Homo sapiens: one gene and its partners. The protein of the gene in region 4 interacts with the protein of the main gene of each other region in a pairwise test. Each region holds a gene or a part of one and is shown on either strand. Other genes may lie near its edges.

Region 1 (7,046 bases), on a different chromosome or scaffold from region 4:
AGTATCATCCAATGATTTGGAATGCTACATTTATCATAGACAAAATGCTTATACATGTGTGGGTTTGTTTCTGTTCCATTGATTTTTCTCTTTATTCTAGAAGTAGTACAACTTTGATTTATTATTGTAACTTTAAAATACACTTTGATATCTGATGTAGGGCACATATTTTTCCTAGATATAAATTTTCTAAACAATGTTATTGAGGTATAATTTGTGGGCAGTAAACTATACATACTTAAAATGTACAATTTGAAGAGTTTTGATGCATGTATACACACATGAAACCACCACCACAATCAGGATACCTAACACACACACACACAAACACACACACGATACCTAACATTTCCATCACTCTCCAAAATTTCATTGTGTCCTTTTACAATTCATCTTTTCTTCCATTTCTGTCCCCAGATAACCACTGATTTGCTTTCTATTCCCATAGATTAGTTTGAATTTTCTAGAATCTTATATAAATAGAAGCATACAGTAGGCACTCTTTCATGTCTGGCTTCTTCCACTCAGCATAATGGTTTAGAGATTCATTCATGTTTTTGTATGTATCAGCAATTTGTTCCTTTTTTGCAGAGTAGTAGTTCATTATATGACTATACCACATTTTAAAAAATCCTTTCCCTGTTGATGGACATGTGGGTTATTTCCCACTTTTCGCTATTACAAATAAAGTTGCCATGAGAACATTCATGTTTGTCTTTGTATGGAACACACATTGTATTTTCATTCCTCCTGCAGAAATATCTAAGAACAGAATGGCTGGGTCATGGGTAGGCATATGTTTAATTTTTAAAGAAACTGCCAATCTGTTTCCCAAAGTGTCATGTTTTACATTTTCCAAAGTAGGGCATATATTTAAATTTACTGAATTATATTCACAGAAGGACTGCCTCTAATTGTCTGCCCCTATGATTTGGTCAGACCTTTTAGCATTTTTCTTATAAGTTTTAGTGATAGATTACCATTATATTCTAAAATGAGCACATATTTTTAACTAGTTGCAGGGTTTTTTTAATTTGTTTGTTTCGTTTTGTTTTGTTTTTGAGACGGAGCTTTGCTCTTCTTGCCCAGGCTGGAGTGCAATGGCGTGATCTTGGCTCACCGCAACCTCCTGTCTCCCGGGTTCAAGCAATTCTTCCGCCTTAGCCTCCGAGTGGCTGGGATTACAGGCATGTGCCACCACACCCGGCTAATTTTGTATTATTTTTTTTTTAGTGGGGACGGAGTTTCTCCATGTTGGTCAGGCTGGTCTCTAACTCCCAACCTCAGGTGATCCACCCTCTGTTGCCCCCCAAAGTGCTGGGATTACACGCATGAGCCACCACACCTGGCCAACTAGTTGCAGTCTTAAAGACCTAGGTATTGCCACATCATTAAGTAGGTAACAGACTTAAATAATTTCTCCTTGTGAATCAATGTTTTTTATTTTGGTAAAAAAAAAACCCCACATAACATGGAATCTACCTTCTTACAAAATTATTAAGTGTACAGTATGGCATTTTTAACTATATGCACATTATAGTACAGCAGATCTCTAGATTTTTTTCTGTGAATCAGTTTAAATATGCATTTTGAAATAAACAGAAACATAATATTATATACAATTATCTTGGATTTGCTGGATTTTAATTGTGGCTCCTCTACTTATGAGATCTTAAACAAATTACTTGATCTCTCTGGGCCTCAGTCTCCTCATCTGTATAATGAGGATAATAATAATACTTACTTTGTAGGATTGTTGTTGCGATGGAAGGAAGAAAAAGCTGGAGCGTTGTCTGGTATGTAGTAAGCATCAATAAAAGTTACTAGTCAGGCTTGGTGGCATGTGTCTGTAGTCTGAGCTACTCAAGAGGCTAAGGAAGGAGGATATCTTGAGCCAAGGAGTTCAAGGCTCCAGTGAGCTATAATTGCACCACTGCACTCCAGCCTGGGCGACAGAGTAAGAACCTGTCTCTAAAAAATTTTAAAAGGCCAAGCACAGTGGCTGTCTTCTGTAATTCCAGCACTTTGGGAGACTGAGGCGGGAGAATCGCTTGAACTCAAGAGTTCATCAGCCTTACAACATAACAAGACTCCCATCTCTACAAAAAAGTTAACTATTAATGTTTTACCTCCTTTCACAGGAGGAATGAAAATTATAAAGCAGATGCTTTTTATTGAAAACCTGTTTTCAGTATTTTGATTAAAGAAATGTGTTCCATTTATAATTATTGTTATTTAACTACATATAGATTTATTATGTACAACTTAACATTCAAAACTACCTTCCATATTTTGTTTGTTTGTTTCTATACCAAGAAAGGGAAACAGAAAAGAGCTGATTTAATAATGGGTTATTGAAAGATTTAGGGACTTGAATATTTGCAAAATGGTATTATGATATAGAAAGAGTGCTGGATTAGGCGTCAGACAACATGGGTTAAAACTCGTGTTTGGCAAACTACTAATCATGCTTCTAGATCTGTAAAATGCAAATGATTATCCATGAACTTTCCACCTGTCAGGGCAGAAAAGAGGATCAAAATGAGCTAATTAATTTTTGCTAATTTCAGCAGAAACAGACTGACCTCTGTTTTGGCTAGAATCATGGGACATTTAACCTATAATAATGTTTTGCAAGTGCAAATTCCTTAGGGAAATAAACAGCCAGAACTTACTACCAGAAGTTCCTGAGGTCTAATTCCATCTTTTCAAGAAGGCTTTTTGATCTGGATAATTACTTACTTCTTAATTTGTCAAATAAATTTAATTTTTACCATATGGAGCCCTGTTGAGAGCTCACTTATTAAAATCTTTTTCCTTTCCTAGGCTTGTTTACAAATTGATCCTGCTGACAGGATATCATCTAGTGATCTTTTGCATCATGAGTATTTTACTAGAGATGGATTTATTGAAAAGTAAGCATTTTGAGTGAATGTGGGTTTTTTAAAAGCATTTTGTATTGGGAAATTTTACTAGCAGGAAAATTGCTGTATAGGTTACTTTTATATAACAAATATTCAGTTTAACAAAAATTTATTGAGTTATTGTATCAGGTATTGACTAGGAAGACAGCAGACTTAACAAGTGTCACGAATGAAAAGCCTAATAATAGGATGGGCATAGTGGCTCACACCTGTAATCCCAGCACTTTGCGAAGCTGAGGCAGGCAGATTGCTTGAGCCCTGGAGTTCACGACCGGCCTGGGCAACATAGAGAGACCCCTGTCTCTACAAAAAATACAAAAATTAGCAAGGTGTGGTGGCACACGCTTGTAGTCCCAGCTACTCGGGAGGCTCAGGTGGGAGGATTGCTTAAACCCCAGAGGTGGAGGTTGCAGTGAGCTGAGATTGCACCACTGCACTCCAGCCTGGGTGACAGGTTGAGACCCTATCTCAAAAAAAGAAAAAGAAAGTCTAATAATAAAAAGTAATTGCAACTAACATTCGTTACACAGTTACCATGTCCTAGGCAGTGTGCTCTGCTCTTTACATACTACAGTTTCAGTGTCATCATAGACCAGAGATAACATTAAATAAGCAATCAATACTTCTTAGCTTTATTCCTGTTTGGACCTCTGACTCAGAGAATAGTCTGGTTTTTCCTCTTCTGATGACATTCATTTATCATAATTAGCATGCACTTCCCAAATGATTTTTTTTCTACTTATTCTCTGTTGCAGTGCTTGTTGTCTTTTTTTTTTTGAGATGAAGTCTCGCTTTGTTGCCCAGGCTGGAATGCAGTGGCACAATCTCGGCTGACTACAAACCTCCATCTCCCGGGTTCAAGCAATTCTCCTGCCTCAGGCTCCAGAGTAGCTAGGATTAGAGGCACATGCCACCACGCCTGGCTAATTTTTGTATTTTTAGTAGAGATGGGGATTTTGCCATTTTGGCCAGGCTGGTCTCAAACTCCTGACCTCAGGTGATCCACCCGCCTTGGCCTCCCGAAGTGTTGGGATTACAGGCATGAGCCATTGCGCCCGGCTGCAGTGCCTGTTGTTGTATCCTACCCATGAAATTGGAAGTTCCCTGAAGACAGGTGCCATGCTTCTTATGGCCCTTCTGTGCCCCACATTGCCTATGACATGCCCAGCATATAATCTGTATTACAATTTAGATTCATGAATCAGCCATATTTCTAAAAAAACACCATTTTCTATTTGGGCTTTGAAAGAAACAGGAAAAGTTTCTCATTAACTGTAAAACCATTCAGCTTGTCTTTGGACGTGACGTTAGAAAGATGGACATCCATTAAAAATGTGATGGAGCTAAGGTCAGATATGGAAGAGTCCAGGAACTGCTATTGGAGATAGACTAAATAGAAAAAAGCGAAGAGAATCCTTGAGGGTGACTAGAACTTTGCGCATTTCAGGAATTTTACTCTAAAACAAACAATAAGATGATATATTTAAAGTGCCATTGGCAAGGTGCTGCAGCTCATGTCTGTAATCCCAGCATTTTGGGAGGCCAAGGTGGGCAGATCAACTGAGGTCAGGAGTTCAAGACCAGCCTGGTCAACATGGTGAAACCCCATCTCTACTGAAAATGCAAAAACTTAGCTGGGCGTGGGCATGTGCCTGTAGTCCCAACTACTCAGGAGGCTGGGACAGGAGAGTCATTTGAACCCAGGAGGCTGAGGCTGCAGTGAGCTGAGATCACACCACTGCACTCCAGTCTGGGTGACAGAGCCAGACTCCGTCTCAAAAAATAAAAGAATAGGCCGGGCTTGGTGGCTCACACCTGTAATCCCAGCACTTTGGGAGGCCGAGGCGGGCAGATCACGAGGTCAGGAGATCAAGACCATCCTGACTAACGCGGTGAAACCCCGTCTCTACTAAAAATACAAAAAACAAAATTAGTTGGGTGTGGTGGCGGGCCCCTGTAATGCCAGCTACTCAGGAGGTTGAGGCAGGAGAATGGTGTGAACACGGGAGGCAGAGCTTGCAGTGAGTGGAGATCGTGCCACTGCACTCCATCCTGGGTGACAGAGCGAGACTCTGTCTCAAAAAATAATAATAAATAAATAAATATAATAAAAAATAAAATGAAGTGCCATTGATAAAAAGTGGCAGTTATTGGCTGGGCATGGTAGCTGATGCCTGTAATCCCAGCACTTTGGAAGGCCGAAGCAGGCGGATTGCTTGAACGTAGGAGTTCAAGACCAGCCTGGGCAACATGGCAAAACCCTGTCTCTACAAAAAATACAAAAATTATCTGGGTGTGTTGGTGTATACCTGTAGTCCCAGCTACTACGGAGGCTGAGGTAGGGGATTTCTTGAGCCCAGGAGGTCAGGGTTGCAGTGAGCCATGAGTGTGTCACTGCACTGCAGCCTGGGCAACAGAGAGAGACCGTGTCTGAAAAGAAAAGATGCCAGTTATTGAATTAAGAGGTTGCTTCATATCACTTCTACACAGACGAAGTTTATTTTTCTTGGACATTTAGATATTAGGCTTCTATTATTGTGGGGTGAAAGTACCTTGAGTTCAATTTATAGAATCCTCAGAAGAGTGGGCTGGACTAGGGAAGAATTCATTCATGGGCTGATGTTTTAAAACCTTCCCAAACTGATAGCTGTAGCTGCTTCAAGGAGGGGACTTGTGCAGTTCAGGGAAGGGGTGGGAAGGAAACTTTTCAGTATGGACTTTTGAACTTTGAACCACATGAATGGACTTTCTAATCAAAAATAACTTTTAAAAAGAAAGAAATCAAACTAAAACCAAAATAATCTCTCTCCAATATGAAGGTATTCTGTTACATTTCTCTAGAGTAAGATTTTAGAAGTTAGTTAGTTCATTTTTAAAGTTCTATTACTTTAAAGAACCACAGCTGGGTGCAGTGGCTGACGCTTGTAATCCCAGCAACTTTGGGAGGACGAGGCAGGTGGATCACCTGAGATTGGGAGTTGGAGACCAGCCTGACCAACATGGAGAAACCGCGTCTCTACTAAAAATACAAAATTAGCTGGGTGTGGTGGCACATGCCTGTAATCCCAGCTACTCAGGAGGCTGAGGCAGAATCGCTTGAACCCAGGAGGTGAAAGTTGTGGCGAGATGAGATTGTGCCATTGCACTCATGCCTGGGCAACAAGAGCGAAACTCCATCTCAAAAAAAAAAGAAGAACCACAGAAAAGGTCAAAGTGGTCTGAGTCTTCCTTAAAAATAACAGTATCTTTATCAAAATTAAAAGCAATATTTTTCTGAGTAAAGTTTGCATCGCAGAAGGAATCTAATTAGTATAAATCTATTTTGTAAAAGTTTTATATAGTAGGTTCCCATAGCATAATTTTCGAAAGATGTATCTTTAGAAGAAAGCAATTTTTATTAGGTAAATGTTGGGCCATCTCTTGACATGCATTATAGTTAGCATTATTTATGCTGTAGCTGAAATGTACATTAATTGATGAAATGGTTTATTCAAGATAAAATACTCCATCTGCATATATAAAAAGATTACTCGTTGATATTGCTTGTTTTGTCAGATTCATGCCAGAACTGAAAGCTAAATTACTGCAGGAAGCAAAAGTCAATTCATTAATAAAGCCAAAAGAGAGTTCTAAAGAAAATGAACTCAGGAAAGATGAAAGAAAAACAGTTTATACCAATACACTGCTAAGTAGTTCAGTTTTGGGAAAGGTAAGAACTTTGGTTTTTGTTTCAGCCAGTATAATTATATTATAGTTAGACTCTAATGACAAAAATAACTGTTATGATGACTCAGATTTTGGATGTATCTATTCCAGGAAATAGAAAAAGAGAAAAAGCCCAAGGAGATCAAAGTCAGAGTTATTAAAGTCAAAGGAGGAAGAGGAGATATCTCAGAACCAAAAAAGAAAGAGTATGAAGGTGGACTTGGTCAACAGGATGCAAATGAAAATGTTCATCCTATGTCTCCAGATACAAAACTTGTAACCATTGAACCACCAAACCCTATCAATCCCAGCACTAACTGTAATGGCTTGAAAGAAAATCCACATTGCGGAGGTTCTGTGACAATGCCACCCATCAATCTAACTAACAGTAATTTGATGGCTGCAAATCTCAGTTCA
Region 2 (6,887 bases), on a different chromosome or scaffold from region 4:
GTAATGGTACTTGAGCCCGTAGATGCTGGGGAACTCCAGCCAGCACCCTGAGTTTGGACACTTCACCCTCGAGTGTGCCTTGAACTCATCCTTCCAGTCGTTCATCAGGGAGAGCTAGGCGTGGGGAAAGGTGGTGCTGCTGACCCGCAGCCACCTGGGCCACTGCCAGCCCGAGCCCCAGACTCAGAGCCCCCCCGGGCCTGCAGGGCACACACACCACATGAGCCCCTCAACCTCGGGACTGCAGTGGGAATTCAAGCCACCTGGCAGGGGCCATGCACAAGACCCGTTCTAGGAGCCCACCAACGCGATCCCCCGAATCTCCCGGCACATCAGATACAAAGCCAGGCCACGTGAAGTCTGCCAGGCCAGTGCCCACATCTTGAGGCATAGAGTTGGTACCAGATGTGCAGAGGACAAATCAGGGCAGGGCAGTGGCTGGATAGGGAGACCCCAGCATGAGCCCCACCATGGCCCTGAGGGAGCTCACAGGAATGTCTCGGAGGGCCTGGTTCTCGGCTTTTGGCCGCCCCTTTTTCTTCCCTTCTGTCTTGTCACTGGCTGGACTTCCCGGGTCAAAGCAGAGAGGGGCCTGGCCGGGCACTGTCTGTCCACCACGGACCACCGGCATCCCTGCAGCACACAACACAGCAAGGCTCGGAAGCTGTGTAGCACCGCCTACCACCGGCGGCTGCACAGGCCCACAGTGAGCACCGCTGTCCCAACACGAGGGCACCGGGGGCAGGGGCTGCGGCCAGCTGAGGACAAGAACCCAGGACCCTGGGCTATGTCCAAGGCAACCCCTACCCTGGTAAGGTCCTTGGGAACTCTAGGGGCCTAGCTGGGTACCTGGAGACAGGACGCCCAGGGCAATGGTCCACTCCTACCACTTGCTGCCCAGAACCATCTGGAATTGACTCTGGCCCTGACTCCTCTTACCCATCTTCGGTGGGTCATGCAGCATTGGAAGTCGGACCTCCTTTCGGCTGCCATCCTTCCCGGGACCACTCTTGCTGGACCCCGGGAGCCGACGGCCTCCAACGCAGAAAGGATCCGTCATCTCTGCAGAGCAAGTAGACAATCTGTGAAGCCTGACGGGCCCCACTTGGAACACGTGGTGAGGCTGCCCTGGAGCCCTGCCCTTGGCAGGTCCTCTCTGGTCAGGGAAGAGGGGCCTGCCTTCCTGTGGTTTTGTTCACGTGGGAAAAGCAAGTGATGGGGGCTTCTGACTTAGGGGAGGGGCTGCCAGCCAAGGTCTCCCCAGATAACCCAGGAGTCATCATCAGTTTGATAGGATCTAGTCCTGTCCTGAGACCCTCACCAACTTCCAGACCCCCTTCCCAACACGCAGCTCTACAGTGTACGCAGCTCCACAGTGTGCGTAGCCCCACAGCTGCGAAGATGATGCCGAAGGTGATGCACTCCTACCCAGTGCTGGGAGGGGGTGTGCCCCTGGGAGAGGTGCCTTGCGCAGGAGGAAGGAGGCTGGCAACATTCCTCCAGGGGCCAATTATGTCTCTGATGATGGCTGCTGGCTCACAAGCTGCCCAGGCCCAGCAGTGGGGGCACAGCTTCTCACTGGGGCCCTCATACCTTCCCATGCTGACTTGATGCAATGCCAGCCTACCCAGGCAGGTACCCTTGGAATCTTCTCTCCAGACACAGATGGAAAACAGCCAAGGTGGGCACTGAGGACCCCTGGCCCAATCTGGCACTGCACCAAGCTCCCGTCCCTGTGCCGGCTGAACTATCCTACCTGATGCTCTTCGCAGACTTGTCTCCAGGCTTGGCAGGCTGACCCGCCCCCCACCTCTCTCTGGATCCTCTCAGTCCTCTGCCTACAGACCCACCACTACCACTTCAGCCAAACAAGTCGTGGAAGCACCAGCAGTGAAGGCCCAGGATGCTGGCCAGAGAGAACGCCCTGCTGCCCAAGGCTGGGGCCCCCGAGGGCCTGTGCTGCTGGGAACCCCATCCTGAGAGCTGGGGAGCAGAGGAGACTCTGGGCCCAGCCCTGTGGAAAAGCCACGGAAGGGGGTGGGACAGGAAGCAGGGTGAGGGTTGAGTGGGCAGGTGGCCCCCTCCTGATAGCTTCTAATTAACTTGGATCCGAGGGGATGGGAAGGGGCTGCTGTGTCCAGGAGGGCCAGAGAGCTGAGGTCAGAGGTCAGGACAGTCACTGCCCATTGCCAAGGGGGAGGCCAGTGTCCGGGGACAAAGTTCTCTGGAAGTCCTCACTTTGCAACTTTTGAAAGGAGACAGGGCCGGCATGAGTCATCCCAGCACCTGATGACCCCGGTGGCCTGGGGTGCAGGTGCCTGCTGAGGCCCCACTTCCAATTTTTCTGAAGCCTGGGAGAAGAATTCAGAATAGTGGGGCCTGAGGCCAGGGCCAGCCTGGGAGGCAGAGACGCGACTGGCGCCCCGGATGAGAAGGGGCTTCGGCCCTCCCGAGCCCAGCGGGGACACAGAGCCCTCGCGGGGAGAGGGGGCTCCGCCGCGCTGCGCGCAGGAGACGCCAGCAGCGGGTCCGCCGCGTAGGCCGTTCGGCCCGGGACCCCGGCCCAGGCCTGGCGCGCGGGTGAGCGCGGCCAGGGACGCGCACCTGGGGCCAGCCTCGCCACCCACCTGTCACCTGGGGCCGGGAGCGGGCGCGGGGCGCGGGCCTCGGCCTGGCCGGGCAGGGCCGATCGCGGGCGCGGGGTGGGGGGGCGAAGGCAGTGAACCAAAATGGCGACTTTTTCTGGAGAAGGAGGAGGCAGGAAGACGGCGCCGGCGCGGGGCGCGGGGGCTCGGGCGCGGCGGGGGGCGGGGGGGCTCCGGGCCCGGCCCCCTCCTTGGCCTGCGCGCAGGGTCGAGATCCGGGGCGCGGTGGGCGCCGGGGCTGCGGCCAGAATGGGTCCGGGGCGCGGCCGGGCGCTTACCTGCGGCGCCCAGCGGGGCTGCGGCCGGGCCGGGCCGGGCCGGGGCGGGGGGCGCGGGGCGCGGGGCGCTGGGTCCGGGCGGCGCAGGCTGCGCGCCGCGCTGCGCACATGCGCGCTCCCGCCCCTCCCACCTTTGACAGTTTTACTGCGGGGGGGAGGGGGCGAACTCTCGCGTTATTCCCGCGGCCGCTCCGCGACGGGGAGGGGGCGGGGAGGGGGCGGGGGCGGGGGCGGGGGCCCGGCGCTGGCCTGTGGTTCCCCCGCTCCGCGGTTCCGCCCCCGTCGGCCGGGCCCGCAGTCCAGAGTAGCCGGTTCTGCCGTCCTGGGGCGGGGGACGTTTTTTGGACAGTGGGGTAAACTGAGGCCCGATAGGGGCGCTAGGCACTGCCCGGAGTCCGGCGCGCACGGATTGAGGCGACCTGATTCCGCCGCATCCTGGCCCGCGCGGCGAGTGTGGTCTCTGGGCTCGGGACCCTGACCTCTGGCCCTGGGGGCCGTGCACCGGCAGCGCAGGATTCAGCCTTCTTCCAACTGGCCCTGAGACCACTTTTGCGACTGACCCCCGGAGGTGCCTGGCGGCTTAAGGCCATGGGGTTTTACTGGGGTCACTGACCATTGGGTCACCCTTTCCCAGCTCTGGGGGCAGTGGTTCTGAACCAGTGCCAGGGCCTTCTCTGCCCCACAGCTTGGGCTTCTGCAGGCAGGGGGCACTGGGGTCCGGTGTGGGCTGAGTGGTCTGGAGGTGGCGGGGCACTGACAGCACAGGACTTGGGAATGAATGAGACAGAGAAAGGTTGGCTCTCCTAAAGAGGACTGGTAGGAGGCACCACACGGGACTGGCACAGGACCCACAAGAATCTCCCCCAGGAGAGCCTGCCTGCCTGCCTGCCTGCCTTCCTTCCTTCCCTCTCTTACTTCCTTCTCTCCTTCCTTCCTTCCTTCTTCCTTCCCTCCCTTCTCTTCCTTCCCTTCCCTCCCTCCCTCCCTTCTTCCTTCCTTTCCTTCCTTCTTCCTTCCTTCCTTTTCTCTTTCCTTCCTTCTCTTCTCTTCCCTCCCTCCCTTCCTCCCTTCCTTCTCTTCCTTCCCTTACCTTCCTCCCTCCCTTCTTCCTTCCTTTCCTTCCTTCTTCCTTCCTTCCCTTCCCTTCCTCCCTTCCTTTTCTCCTTCCTTCCCTTCCTTCTCTTCCCTCCCTCCCTTTCTCCTTCCTTCCTTCCTTTCTCTCTCTTTCTTTTTCTCCCCTCCCCTCCCTTCTCCTCCCCTCCCTTCCCCTCCTCTCCTTTCTCCTTCTCCGTTCTTTTTTTATTCTTGAGATAGGGTCTCGCTCTGTCATTCAGGCTGGAATGCAGTGGTGTGATCTTGGCTCACTGCAGCCTCTACCACCTGGGCTCAAGCAATCCTCCCACCTCGGCCTCCCAAGTAGCTGGAACTACAGGTGTGTGCCACCCCACCTGGCTAAGTTTTAAAGTATTCATAGAGACGAGGTCTTTCTGTGTTGACTAGGCTGGTCTTGAACTCCTGGGCTTAAGCCATCTTCCTGCCTCAGCCTCCCACAGTGTGGGCATTACAGGTGTGACCCACCGCCTCTGGCTAGGAGGGCATTTTTTTTTTTTTTTTTTTTTGAGACAGAGTCTGGCTCTGTAGCCCAGGCTGGAGTGCAGTGGTGCGATCTCGGCTCACTGCAAGCTCCGCCTCCTGGGTTCATGCCATTCTCCTGCCTCAGCCAACCAAGTAGCTGGAACTACAGGCGCCCACCACCACGCCCGGCTAATTTTTTTGTATTTTTAGTAGAGACGGAGTTTCACCCTGTTAGCCAGGATGGTCTCAATCTCCTGACCTCGTGATCCGCCCACCTCGGCCTCCCAAAGTGCTGGGATTACAGGCGTGAGCCACTGCCCCTGGCCTTAGGAGGGCCATTCTTACCTGTTCACAGCACCCATCTCCCAGGGAAGGCCTCAGGCCTCAGGAGGGAAGAGTCAAGGAGACTCTGGGTTTTCATCTTGTGCCCATAGAGCATTTTTTTTTTTTTTTTTTTGAGATGGAGTCTCTCTCTGTTGCCCAGGCTGGACTGCAGTGGCGCCATCTCTGCTCACTGCAACCTCCGCCTCCTGGGTTCAAGCAATTCTGCCTCAGCCCCCTGAGTAGCTGGGATTACAGGCACGTGCCACCATACCCAGCTGATTTTTTGTATTTTTAGTAGAGACGGGGTTTTACCAAGCTGGCCAGGCTGGTCTCGAACTCCTGACCTCGTGATCCACCCACCTCGGCCTCCCAAAGTGCTGGAATTACAGGCATGCGCCACCGCACCCAGCCAGCATTTTTTTTAAAACCATGTGCATATATTACTTTTATAATTAAAACAGACTTTTAAAAGTTTCGTAATGCCCCTTTTTGCATACTACAAATATTCTGGACTCCTTAAAATTGATGTGGGCTGGAAGTTGCTAGTCAGGAAATGGAACTACCAGGTGTGCCTCCTTCGCTGGGGCCCTTCCGGCCCAGTCGGCCCCTTTCCCTGTACCCCGTGGAGCAAGCTCAGAGGCACTGCTAGGGGGTTGGGCAGTAAGATTTTTGCCTTTCCTCAAAGGGGCCTGGGATCTGCTTCACTCAAGGCTGGTGCAGAGCACTCACATGGAGATTGGAGGTTGGCTCTTATAGAAGAGGCAGTCAGTCAATCCTTCCTTCGGGAATCTGAGTCAGAGAGGCCAGTGCACACCAGCCTGTGTGACCCGAGGAGGAAGGGGAGGGCATTCCCTGTGAGGCTAGCGTCATCACGTCCTTCCCTTGTTGACCTTTCCCACCCTGGGGACGGGACCAGCAGGATTTCCTGAGGGGTCAGTGTGTGTCCCCTTAGGTGCAGCCAAGGCCGTCAGCTCTCCCTGTGTAAGTCTGGGTGTCCATACATGCGACCTGTTTGGACATTGCCGTGTCAGGATATGACAGTGTCCCATGCTAGGTGAGACCAATGCCTGTCTGTATTTTAGCATCTGGGCGACTAGACCTCAGGGTACCTGGGGACGATGTGTCTGGATTTCAGTATCCATGTGTCCAGGCTGCGGCATGTCTCAGTGTCAGGGTGCTGGTGAGGGACGGCTGTTTTCTGTGAGCATCTACATGCCAGGGTGTCGTGGAATACAGTGTGTTTGTGTGCACCGGGGATGTGCCGTGTCCCATGTGTTTCTATGTGTTAGGAGGTCGTTGTGTGTCTGCATGCTAGTATTTGTGTATTTGTGTAATGACATCTTTGTATGGGGGCATGCTGTTACATACCTTTGTGTCTGTGTGCCTGGCCAACTACATGCATGTGTTTGTGTGTGTTGGTGTTTGCTGGTGTCAGTGTCATTGAGTCTCTGTGTGTGGTTTATGCTCTTATGTGTCTGATTGCTGTGTGTGTGTGGTGTGTGTGTGTGTGTGTGTGTGTGCTGTGATCTGTGTTTGAGACAGGGTCTTGCTCTGTTGCCCAGGCTGGAGTGCAGTTGTGTGGTTAGAGCTCACTGTGCCTTGAACTCCTGGGCTCAAGGAATCTTCCTGCCTCAGCCTCCCAAGTAGCTGGGACTACGGGTATGCGCCACCATGCCTGGCTAGTTTCAAAAGTTTTTTGTAGAGATGGGGTCTTGCTATGTCACACAGGCTGGTCTTGAACTCCTGGCCTTCAGCGACACTCCTGCCTTGGTCTCCCACAGTGCTGGGATTGCAGGCGTGAGCCACCGTACCAGGCCAGATGTTTGTGTTTTATCCCTGAACGTGTGAATGGGATCTTATTGGGAAAAGGGTATTTGCAGATGTGATGAAAGATCTTGTGATGAGGAGATTATCCTGTATTACCCAGGTGGCCCCAAATCCAAGCATCCTTATAAGAGAGAGACAGAGGGAGATTTGAGAGACAGAAGAGGAGGAGGTGATCTGATTACAGAGGCGGAGACGGGTAATGCCCATGCGCCCGAGTTCCCCCGGCAGCCACTGGAAG
Region 3 (7,733 bases), on a different chromosome or scaffold from region 4:
TCACTTGAGAATTGTTCCTATCTGCCTATGGGCATGCTCACGTGTGAATGTCCTCTGTTACGAGCCTGGGACACAGAAGACAGGCCCACTGACCTCAGAGGGGAGGAGGAGAGTGTATTTTAGGAGAGGAGTTTATTTTGGGAAAAGTGGTTTAAAACAAAAAGGTGAGAGACGATGGTGAATGTTTCCAGGGACATGGACCAAGAAGGCCCTCACACAATATTTAGTAATATGGAACAATAAGAAAGACACCAGATGACCCGCAGCTCCAGTCCCAGGTATAAACCCTGAGGAAACTTAGGAACTGTGACTAGGATACATGTACAAGTGTGTTCAAGGAGCTTTGTTCATAAGAGCTCAACTCTGGAAACAATCCAATGACCATCCCAATAGAGTGGAATAAAAAATGGCAGTATATCCACATGGCAGACAGCATGGCTGCCTACAACAGCATGGGTAAATCTTATAAACCCAATGCTGAAAGAGAGAAGCAGGATCAGGGAATTTCAAAGAATGAAGTTCCAAACAAGCAAGACTAAATGCCATTGTCTAGGGGAACATACTTCAACACAGAAAGAGAAAAGCAAGGAAGTGAGTCCCAAAGTCAGAGTAATAGTTGCTGGTGTGGGAGGATTTGGAGTGTGGGATGAGGAGGTGAGACTAAGGGGTGTGATTAGGTGAGTACTTGAGAGAGGCTTCTGCAGTGCTAGCAGGACTCTTTCTTTGCTTGGTGGCGGTTTCATGTGTGTTGTTATAAAAATGTGTTAAGTGGTACATGGATATTTTATGTACCCCAGTCAATACAGTATATTTCACAATAAAATAAAAGCTGGGAGGAAGAAAGAAGGAAAAGAAAAAAAGAAAAGAAAAAGAGAGGGAGGGAAGGAAGGAAGGGAGGGAAGGAAGGGAGGGAGGGAAGGAGAAAGATCTTCAAACATTGCCATATATCTGAGGAATCAGATAGCAGAATTATCCATAGCAATCCCTGTAACTACAAACATGAATCAAGGGATGAGAAAAAGTGCTGGACATAGGAAGGTGGTTAGAGTGCAGTAAAGAGCTCAGTGTTGTCAGATAAGGAGTGCAGGCACATGCTGACAGCATTGTTTTCCATTTTGTGCTTTCTGGAGGAAGCTGCCAGGGTCCGGCCCTCACTCAGTGGATCTCACCAACCCATCATCCGTGAGACCTATTGGGGAAATTTTCAGGGCTTTCTCTGTATTTTTCCATTTCTGGTTTAGGAACAGGGAGTGGAGGAGGAGAAAAGACACATAGCTGGTGTGTGTGTGTGTGTGTGTGTGTGTGTGTGTGTGTGTCTGTGTGCGCGTGCATATGAAGACACAGTGGCTAGGCTGTGGACAGCTGGTGGCATCACCATCCATCCAGTCACACAAACCAGAACCAGGGGCACATCCTTGACCTTTCCCTCTCCCTCACCAGACTTCTCTCCTCAACCATCAAGCCCTCCTAGCCGAGATCCAGATCCTTAACATTTCCTGAAACCATGCCCCTGTTCCATCTCCCCCATGACAGCCAGGTCAGGCCAGGATGCCTGTAACAGTCTCGCTGCTCTCTGTATTGATCTTACCCTCTCATCTGCCCCTGCACTGTAGCCCTACAGGTGTTTTCTAGAACACTCTCTCGTCCTATCACATCAGTTCACACACCTTCAAAGACCCTGTAGCCCAAAGATCAAAGCTGAACGCCCTAGGAAGGCCTTGTGCAGCCCAACTCCAGCTTGCTTCTCCCTCTCCTTCCTACCCAGCCTGCACCCAACTCCAAATCTAAGGCCCAGTATTAACGGGCTCTATTCAGCTCTTGGCACTCTGCCTGCAGTTTCCTGCCTGTGTGGTGAAGCACATGTCGCATCCTCTACTGAGAGCCCCTTTTGTTCCTGTGGTGGGCTTGAATTCCTGTACATCCTTTCCCCTCTGAAAGCTACTCGGACCCTCCAGACAAAGTTCCTCGCCACCTCTGCGATACTGTCTGTCTGTTACTCCACTATTACTTGTCACACTTGATTGAAATTAGGTGTGGACATGTCTTCCTGACATCTCTGTAACCCAGCAGCTATCATAATATAACGCCGCCTATATAGGAGGGAATTGGTGAAAATGTTGGTTGAATTGAACTGAATTGAACTGCATTTTGGAAATTTGATTTTCTATGTTGTATGGCTCTTTGCCTAGAATCCCTCCAATATGTGAAGTCCTCCCTCACTTCCATGTCATGCTGGCCCCCTCTCCCTGGATATCCTTGCCCAACCTCACTTCAGTTCACCTAGCGAATCCTTCAGCACTCAGATACCTCCTCCAGGCCATCTCTCCTAAGCTCAGACTGAGCATGTGCCCTTCCTGTCCCACTAGAAACACCTCATCTTCCATCTCTATGTCTGGCATCCAGCGAAATGTTCTGCCACAGGATAGGTGTTCAGGAAATAGTAGCTGGATGAATGGGCGTCTACTGGGTTAGGATGTTGGAAAACATTCACCTCCAAGTTTTTCTCAAGTGAACACTAAACTTTCTTTAAGAAAGAAAGAAAATAAGAACCATATCAAATAGGTAGATGTGTATTAAAATATAAAGTACAATATAAAACTGTAGATGTGTATCTGTATAGCTGTAAAAACATGCACTAAAGATACATGCCCAGTTTTCAGTTATACTGTAAGACTAGGAGCTTCTTTTTAAGGAAAATATTATATATTACCTTATGCTTAGAACAAATACTATACAGTCTAAAGCCAACAGTTACTTACTGCTTAGCTGCTTCCCACTGGGGTAAGTCCTGTAGCCCTCAGAGGGGGCAGGCGGCCATTGTCATGTCAGATCCCCAGTGATGCGTGCTTGCAGGCTTGCCCCAACAATGCTGGCAGTGACCTGTCTGTGCCCTTTCAGTCCTGACTCACAGGATGGAGATGGCCAAGAAGGGGACCCCTATAAAAGACTTTAAGGAAAGGAGGGGGCACTTGAAAGGTTTGAAAGAGTTCCTCTTCAATCTTTGACTTCACTGATAGGGCAGTGCTGTTGATGACTCACAAGTGATTGTTACCTTAGATTCTGTCAGCATTGGTTCCGGGAGCATGGTTCTAGGAAGTCATGTTCTGGTGGGGGCTTTGTGTGGGATGAATCACTTCTCTTGCTGCTTTCCAGATTCTTCGTCTTTGGCTTTTGATAGTTTGACTATGATGTGTCTTGGTCTTGAGGTTTATTCTACTTGGAGATTGTTGAGCTTCTTGGATATGCAGATTTGATGCCGTTTTTCATCAAATTTCAGAAGTTTTTGGCCATTATTTCTTCAAATATTCTTTCATCCATTTTCTCTGTCTCCTCTCCTTCTAGGGCTCATATTATGTGAATACTAGTAGCGTGAGTGTGTCCCCCAGGTCTCTAAAGTTACGTTCATTTTTCTTCATTCTTTTTTCTTTCTGTTGCTTAGATTAGATAATCTCAATTAACCTGTTTACAAGTTCATGGATTTTTTTCTTCTGTCAGTTCAAATATGCTGTTGAATCCCTCTTTAATTTTTCATTTTCAACTCCAGAATTTTTGTCATGTAGTAAAATTTTTAAATAGTCAAGTAAATTAACATATCCATCATCTCATATAGTTACCCTTTTTTGTGCACTGTAGCAAGAGCACCCACAATCTACTCTCTTAGCAAAAATCTTTAATACAGTGTTATTAACTACAGTCCTCATGTTGTACCTTAGATCTCTAAATTATTTATCCTATATATCTGCAACTTTGTACCCTTTGATTTCCCTCTTCCCGTCCACTCCCCACACGTAGCAGCTGCCATTTTATTCTTTGTCTGTGTATTTGACTTTTTTCTTACTTCTTCTTTTTAATTTTTTTAATATTCTACATATAAGTGAAGTTGTGCAGCATTTTTCTTTCTGTGTCTGGCTTATTTCACTTAGCATAATATTCTCCAGTTTCATCTATCTTGTGACAAACGGCAGGATTCTCTGTTTATGACTGAATAATATTCCACTTTATATACATGCTGCAATTTCTTTATCCATTCATCTGTCAGTGGACCCCTAGTCCATCCAGAATTTCTCCAGAAATTTTCACTGTGTCTCCAGAATTTGTTTGGTTATATATAGAAAAGGATATATGTGCTTTTCTATATACATATATATACACACACACACACACACACACTTCTATATATATATTTTTTCTATATATCTATATAAAAGTATATGTATACAAAGTGTGTGTGTGTGTATATATATATATACACACACACATATATATATGTATGCACACATACTTTTCTGTCTCTTTTTGGTAAGGCATAGTTTTTAATTCTTTCCTTTAATGCTTTTTTTTTTTTTTTTTGAGACATGTTTCTGTCACTCAGGCTGGAGTGCAATGGCATGGTATGATCTTGGCTAACTGCAGCCTCAATTTCCTGGACTCAAGTGATCATCCCACCTCAGCCTCTCAAGTAGCTGGGACTACAGGCGTGCGCCACCAGACCTAGCTAATTTTTTGTGTTTTTTTAGAGATAAGGTTTCTCCATGTTGCCCAGGCTGGCCTCAAACTTCTAGGCTCAAGTGATCTACCCATTCGGCTTCCCAAACTGTTGGGATTATAGGTGTGAGCCATCACACCTGGCCTTGTTTTCCTTTAATTCTTTTGGAATGGTTTCTTTTAGTTCTTTAACTACATTTGTAATAGCTGACTAAAAATCTTGGTTTAATCGCCCAATATCTGCAATTCCTCAGAGACAGTTTATAACCAAAAAGACAATTACTCAGAGAATAACAGTTTCAGGCCAGGCATGGTGGCTCATGCCTGTAATCCTAGCACTTTGGGAGGCCGAGGAGGGAGGATGGTTTGAGCGTCCTCCTGGTAGGAGTTTGAGACCAGCCAGAGCAACATAACAAGACCCTGTCTCTACAAAACTAAAATAAATTAGTCAGTTGTGGTGGTGCATGCCTGTAGTCCCAGCTGCTTGGAAGGCTGAGGAAGGAAGGATCATTTCAGTGCAGGAGGTCGAGCTGCAGTGAGCTATGATCGTGCCACTGCACTCCAGCCTGGGTGACAGAGTGAGACCCTGTCTCAAAACAAAAAAAAAAATAGAATAACAGTTTCTACTGTCTGCTTTTCCCCCTTTATATATAACTCTGTTTGCAATAAAGGGTTTCCTGTTTCTTTATGCCTCAAAAAATTTTGTTGAAGTTGGACACTTAAAATAATATAGTAACTAAAAATGAGATTTCCACTCCCAAGTTTTGTTGGTGGCATTTATTGTTGTTGCTGTTGCTATTTGTTCATTTAGTGACTTTCTTGGACAAATTCTATGAAGTCTATATTTTTTATCATGTGTGGGCATTAAAGTCTGCTTATTAGCTTAACGATCAGCTAATGACTGGACAGAGATCTCCATGAACTGATGTCTCCTTTCCTTTGCTGAGGGGGTGTCTGTGTGTGTGTGTGTGTGTGTGTGTGTGTGTGTGTGTGTGTGTTTGGTTGGGAGTCGGGGGTGCAGGTTGGGCATACCTTTAGTGATCATGCAGGCAGTTTATGATTCTGCCTAGCCTTCGCTTCCTTCTTGTGAGAGCCTCAAAGTCAGCCTGAGGTGAGAGATTATGGCCTTCTCAGGTCTTTCTCAGCCATGTGCACAGTCACATGCATGTGACCCAAATTCTCAGGACTATATCAAAACTTTTCAAAGTCTCCGTCTTATTCTCCAGTTTTTCTTTTTCAGTTATTGGTCAAGCCTATGGTTAACCCCAGCTAGTAATGCCAAATCAGGCAGCTATGATATTAAACAATTACCATTTTTTTTTTTTTTACAAATGCCCTGAGGATAGGGTTATTTGCACAGAGTAAGCTCTGAGTCAAGTCAAATAAAGACAAATTCTGTGAAGGAAGCTTTTCAGTGAACTGCCAAACAGGTCAAATAGTAAAAATTCTTTGAGGATGGAAAGAATCCATCCTAACCCTTACTCAGTCATTCTGGAAGTCTCAATCATTGGTTTTTAACCGTTCTTCTTTTTTAATATGTGTGCTTAAGACCATCAGTTTCCGAAACAGCCAAGTAAAAAGGGCTCCCGGGAGAACCTCCGACCTGCCACCGGGTGGATGGGGCGGGACCTCGAGAAGTTCTCACTGTTTGCAGGGGGGAAGGAGCTTGGCCTCTCATGTTTCTGGGTGGCAACCTAGGATTCAGTCTGTGAGATGGGGGCCTGTTAACAGGAACCCCTTTCGCTTTGCTGAGTTTTTTTCCTTTTACACCCAATAAATTTCGTTTTTCTTACCCTTCTGTGTGTCCACAAGCCTAATCTTTTCCTGGTTATGTGACAAGAACCCAAAGAACCCGGTTTTTAGCTGAGCTAAGGAGAAAGTCCTACAACATTTTCATCTAAGTACACTTACCTGCGTCTCACATGTTTTGATATGTCACCTTTTAATTACCATTCAGTTAAAATATTTTCTGATATCCACTGGAATTTCTTCTTGGATCTATTGGCTATTTACAAGTACATTGCTTAACTTCCAAATATATGGGGATTTTCCAATTATCTTTTTGTTACTGATTTCCAGCTCAATTTCATTATGGTTTGCACAAAGTATATGGTTTGTATACTCTGATTTCAATCATTTCAATTTGCTAAGACTTGCTTTATGGCCCTGTATACATTCAATTGTGGTAAATGTTCCATGTCCACTTGAAAATAATTGGTATTCTTCAGTTGCTTGATGCAGTGTTCTCTCTCTCTATGTCTGAATTAGGTTGAGTCTTTACCTATGTTGTTCAAATCTTCTATATCCTTATAGATTTTTCTGGCTGCTTGTTCTGTCAGTTACTGAGAGAGATGTACTTGCAGATCTATTTCTTCCAGTTAGGTCAGTTTTTGTTTTATATACTTTGAGGCTATATTATTAGATACATGCATATTTTACAATTGTTATATTTTCTTGGCATATTGACACTTTGATTTTTATAAAATGCCACCGTTTTATCTTTAGTAATACTTCTTGCCTTAAGTTCTACTTTGATCTTAGTATAGGCACGTCAGCTTTTATTAGTGTTTGCATGGTGTATCTTTTCTATCCTTTTATTTCAACCTTTCTGTGCCCTTATATTTAAAGTGTATTTCCTATGATGAACATATAGTTGAGTTTTGTTTTTTCTACTGTAATACAATTTGTCATTTATTTGGTTTTTAAAAATATTTACACTTAATATAATTACTGATTTATATTAGATTTGAATCTATTTTCTTACCATGTTTTTTCTACTCCTACCTGTTAAATGTTACTTTTCCTTTTTTCTTTTGGATTAATTAAATAATTTTATTATTCCATTTTCCTCTATTATGTCATTAGCTATATATTCTTTTAGCAATTATCCTGGAGATTATAATAGGCATCCTTGAGTTGTTAAAGTCTAATGGATTTTTATCTTTACTGTTTCTCTGATAATGCTAGAATCTTAGATGATTTTAACTCCACTTATACCCCTTCTACCTTTTTCATTTTGTTGTCATAAATTTTAATTCTGCGTATATTCAAGACTCCTCAAGATTTTGCTAGTCAACATACATTTGTAATTACCCATATTTTTACCTTTTTTCATGCTCTTCATTTCTTCCTGCATCTCTGTGCTTCTGTTTGGGATAATTTTTCAGGTACTCAAAAAATCATATTCTTTAGTATGGGTCTTGTGATGAAATCTCTCACTGTTTATTTGTTGAAAATACTTTTACCTT
Region 4 (3,679 bases):
AAAAGACCACATCTTTTCCAAGGGACATTTTTCCTGGAAAGCCCCTGGAGCTTAGGGGGCTCTCATCCTGTGAAGCGGGCTCTGGCCACTAGGGGGCAGGGCCATTAACTCAGCCTGGAGGGCGCCGGCAGGGCGGCTGGCATTCTGGAGGGACAGACAGAACAGGCCACCAGGCTCAGGCAGGCGAGGGAGGCAGGGGGACAGAATGGAAGACACCTGGGCTGGATGGAAGTCAGTGCCCTTGGGTGCTGGCATCCTGTCTTCCTGGCCACCGCTAGATCAGGCTTCTGAGCCTGTTGGCCATCGGGGCCAAACTGTCCCCATAGGTACCATGGTAGTCCCCGTGTAATCCCCAAGATGTCACCAGGCAGCATACAGGTAACAAGCCTGGAAGGTCCCAACAGCCCAGCTGCACATGCTCAGACACTCTGGGGCTCCCTGTTCAGTGGCACAAACTCCAGGACCCAGTGAGAGAAACAGGAACACATCAGGCAGAGCAGTATGGCTAAATCCATTTATTCCGAAATAAAAAGCAAAATAAACAGGAGTCGCATCACCAGGGCGCCACGACCCCATCCCCGCCTCCTTCCTCTGTCCTATGCTATCAATAAATAAGTTTCCCAGCCCCAAATAATTATTAGAACCTCCTCCCCATGTGCCAGCTCCAACCTCTGCTAGGTATGATACAGGGGGCGGCCCTACCCCTGGAATATACAAAATGTTACACAGATACAATATGTACACTGGGGAAGCAGGGCCACCCCAGCAGCCCGTGCCCTCGCCTGGTCTACAGTTAGCCCCACTGTCCTGCCTCAGCTGCCTCTCTGTGTAAGAAGATGGGAGCCCCCCTGAGGGAAAAATTGCTTTGGTGAGAGTAAGGAGGCCATGAGGCCTCTTCCAAAGAGGCCAATTATATGAGCCTCTGGCTATTAAATAACAATCATCATCATCCAGAAATTTAAGGAGTCAGCCCTGGCCAAGGTGGCTAAGGGTCTACACATTTGTCTCCCCCCATTAGACAGGGGTCTTATTTGCTACTGTAAGAGTAAAGGGATGACTGGGAAGGGGTGGCAGGCACATGATGGGGGCGGAGCCTCCGGCCCCACTTCTCCAGGCTTTGCTGACAGTGGCCTGCTTTTTAAAATTTTTATCCTGACTTTCTTTAATCCCATAACTTTTTTCATAATTTTTTTTTTTTTTGAGACAGAGTCTCACTCTGTCGCCCAGGCTGGAGTGCAATGGCGTGATCTCAGCCCACTGCAACCTCCACCTCCCAGGTTCAAGCGATTCTCCTGCCTCAGCCTCCCGAGTAGCTGGGATTACAGGCACGTGCCACCATGCCTGGCTAATTTTTGTATTTTTAGTAGAGACACAGTTTCACCATGTTGACCAGGCTGGTCTTGAACTCCCAACCTCAGCCTCCCAAAAGTGCTGGGATTACAGGCGTGAGCCACTGCACCTGGCCTTTTTTCATAACTTTTATACCATAAGTTACCCATAACCTTTTTTATCCCATAACTTTTTTTAATCCCATAACTTTTAATTTTTTTTTAATTTAGTGGCCAGCTTTTAGATGACAGTGATCTTCACCTCATCTGCACCTGTCTACCCCCGTTAGACAGGGGTCTATGCTTGCTACTGTAAGGGTAAAGGGTTGACTGAGAAGGGATGGTAGGGATATGGTGGGGGCAGGGTATCCAGCCCCACTTCTTCAGGCTTTGCTGACAGTAGCCGGCTTTTAGATGACAGTGATCTTCACCTCATCATTCTCGTCAGCCCGGTAAAAAAAAGGAATGCAGGGGTTGCTGCCCAAGCCTGGGCGCTCCCGGGGGTTCTGCATCTCACGAAGCAGCTGCATGATCTGCTGTGCAGTGGGGTTGTCACGGGGAGAACCCTCCCTGGCCTCTCCTTGGGCAGGCTCCACACTGCCGGCGAGGCTCACCTCGCAAAGATCTTTGGAGAGAGAGAGGCAGGGCTCTGAGTGCCACGCGAGCCCTCCCTTACTCCTGCCTGCCCACCCCTCCCGAGGGCTCTACTCACCACCCTGCTGGTTGGCAGCCCCAAGTTCCTGGGGGGCTGGGGCCCCTGAAGTGGGCTCATCAGCAGGGTTCTGGGCAGCTGCCAGGAATCTGCCATGCCACTCGTTGCGGTCGCCCACAAGCCGTAAGACCAGCTCCTGCAGCTCCAGCAGCTTCACCTGGAGGGAGGGGTGCTAAGCTGCCATGCCCATGCCCGTGCCCACCTCCACCCCCAGAGATGTTCCACACCCTACCTTCATCTCCTCCTTGTCTTGGGCCAGCCTGCTGATGTACTCCTCCTTCTCCCGGTGCCGCTCCTTCAGCACTGCCCTCTGGCTCTGGTACAGTGCAATGTACTCTCCTGCGGGAGGACAGGGCTCAGATGCTGGGTTCCCTCCGACCGCTGTGCAGCTCCTCCTGCCGTGCCCTGGCCTCCCACTCACCAATGGTGTCTGTCTCTCCAGAAAGCTGGATGCAGCGATGTTCCAGTTCCTCTACCCTCTCCTTCAGGTCTGCCTTCTCCTGCATGAGCTCCATAAAGCGGCTCTGGAACCAAAATAATGGAGTCATATATCGGCAGCGACCTGCCCCGCCCCCACCCTTCTTGACCCATGCCAGGAGAGACTCATTCACCTGCAGCTTCTCCATGGCCCCCTGCAGGGCCCGGTGGGTCTCCCCACACACAGAATCACCCCCGGTCCCTGGGGCTGGGGCTGCTGCCTCAGGCTCCTTCTGGGCCGAGGCCAGCAGGTGAGCCAGGCGCCGGCAGCGCACCCTTTGCTCCTTCAGCTGCCCACGTAGCCTTGCCTGCTCCTCCTCGGCACTGGCTACAGCTGAGTTGAAAAATGCCACCTGCAGGCAAGAGGGGTGCATTCTTGTAGGAGGATATATAGGATGAACAGGGCAGGGAGGTAGAGAGCAGCCCTTCCCTTGGGGCCTCAGAGGGTGCACTTGTTGGTCCCAAGTGAAATGGTGTCTCACCACTGGCTCCCAGGAAAGGGGTGAGGGTCCGAAGAAATCAGAAGGCCGGGAAACCAAGAGCAGAAGGGGGTCTGGGAGGGACCACAGAGGGAGGCAGCAAAGGTTGGGGAGGGGGAGTCAGCCTCACCATGGCTTCCCGGCTCTCCAGGTCCTCCGGGATGCTTGGCATGGGCTGAGGTACTGCCACCGCCTCCTCCTCCTCCTCCTCCTCATCCTCCTCCTCCTCCCGGTCCAGTCCATCTCCTATGGGGGTGGCCAGAGGGGTCATCAGACAACCCAACAAGGGTACAGTGGGCCCACCTCTGCCCCCACCCTCACTGTGTAACCCTGGGCCAGCCCCTCCCCAGAGGGAAATAAGCATCTGTTCTTTATTTTTATTTTATTCTTTTTTAAGAGCCAAGGGCTCGCTATGCTGCCCAGGTGCAGTCCCACTACCGATCAGCATGGGAGTTCTGACCTGCTTCATTTCTGACCTGGGCCAGTTCACCCATCCTTAGGTAAGCTGGTAGTGCCCTGCTCCCAGGAAGTCACCATATTGATGCCGAACTTAGTGTGGACACCCAGTTGGCATAATGACCAGCTGTTCTAAAGGTCTCTTCCAACTCCTCAATTCTACGCTGCTAACAGTCCCCCCTTCTTCCTGGGGCTCTCTCCTCTTCCTGTGAGCAGGTTCCCGTACC

The links.
Region 1: the proteins of GOLGA2 (region 4) and CDKL3 interact in binary tests that used the Homo sapiens proteins (3 or more experiments, as listed by UniProt).
Region 2: the proteins of GOLGA2 (region 4) and ZNF512B interact in binary tests that used the Homo sapiens proteins (3 or more experiments, as listed by UniProt).
Region 3: the proteins of GOLGA2 (region 4) and CCDC70 interact in binary tests that used the Homo sapiens proteins (3 or more experiments, as listed by UniProt).

What each region holds. Positions count from the first base shown.
Region 1 is NC_000005.10:134,308,161-134,315,206, reverse strand, and holds part of CDKL3 (cyclin-dependent kinase-like 3), read left to right. Parts: intron 1-1,289; exon of another isoform or gene 1,290-1,796; intron 1,797-2,826; coding exon 2,827-2,915; intron 2,916-6,479; coding exon 6,480-6,633; intron 6,634-6,740; coding exon 6,741-7,046.
Region 2 is NC_000020.11:63,966,891-63,973,777, forward strand, and holds the start of ZNF512B (zinc finger protein 512B), read right to left. Parts: upstream 3,041-6,887; 5' UTR 3,034-3,040; coding exon of another isoform or gene 2,924-3,033; intron 2,768-2,923; exon of another isoform or gene 2,628-2,767; intron 2,480-2,627; exon of another isoform or gene 2,352-2,479; coding exon of another isoform or gene 2,239-2,351; intron 1,063-2,238; coding exon of another isoform or gene 1,061-1,062; coding exon 940-1,060; intron 634-939; coding exon 491-633; intron 115-490; coding exon 1-114. UniProt on the Homo sapiens protein: Involved in transcriptional regulation by repressing gene expression. Associates with the nucleosome remodeling and histone deacetylase (NuRD) complex, which promotes transcriptional repression by histone deacetylation and nucleosome remodeling.
Region 3 is NC_000013.11:51,857,256-51,864,988, reverse strand, and holds the start of CCDC70 (coiled-coil domain-containing protein 70), read right to left. Parts: upstream 3,021-7,733; 5' UTR 2,760-3,020; exon of another isoform or gene 2,701-2,759; intron 94-2,700; exon of another isoform or gene 5-93; intron 1-4.
Region 4 is NC_000009.12:128,255,329-128,259,007, forward strand, and holds the end of GOLGA2 (golgin subfamily A member 2), read right to left. Parts: coding exon 3,679-3,679; intron 3,243-3,678; coding exon 3,127-3,242; intron 2,871-3,126; coding exon 2,652-2,870; intron 2,565-2,651; coding exon 2,462-2,564; intron 2,380-2,461; coding exon 2,273-2,379; intron 2,198-2,272; coding exon 2,041-2,197; intron 1,954-2,040; coding exon 1,739-1,953; 3' UTR 501-1,738; downstream 1-500. UniProt on the Homo sapiens protein: Peripheral membrane component of the cis-Golgi stack that acts as a membrane skeleton that maintains the structure of the Golgi apparatus, and as a vesicle thether that facilitates vesicle fusion to the Golgi membrane.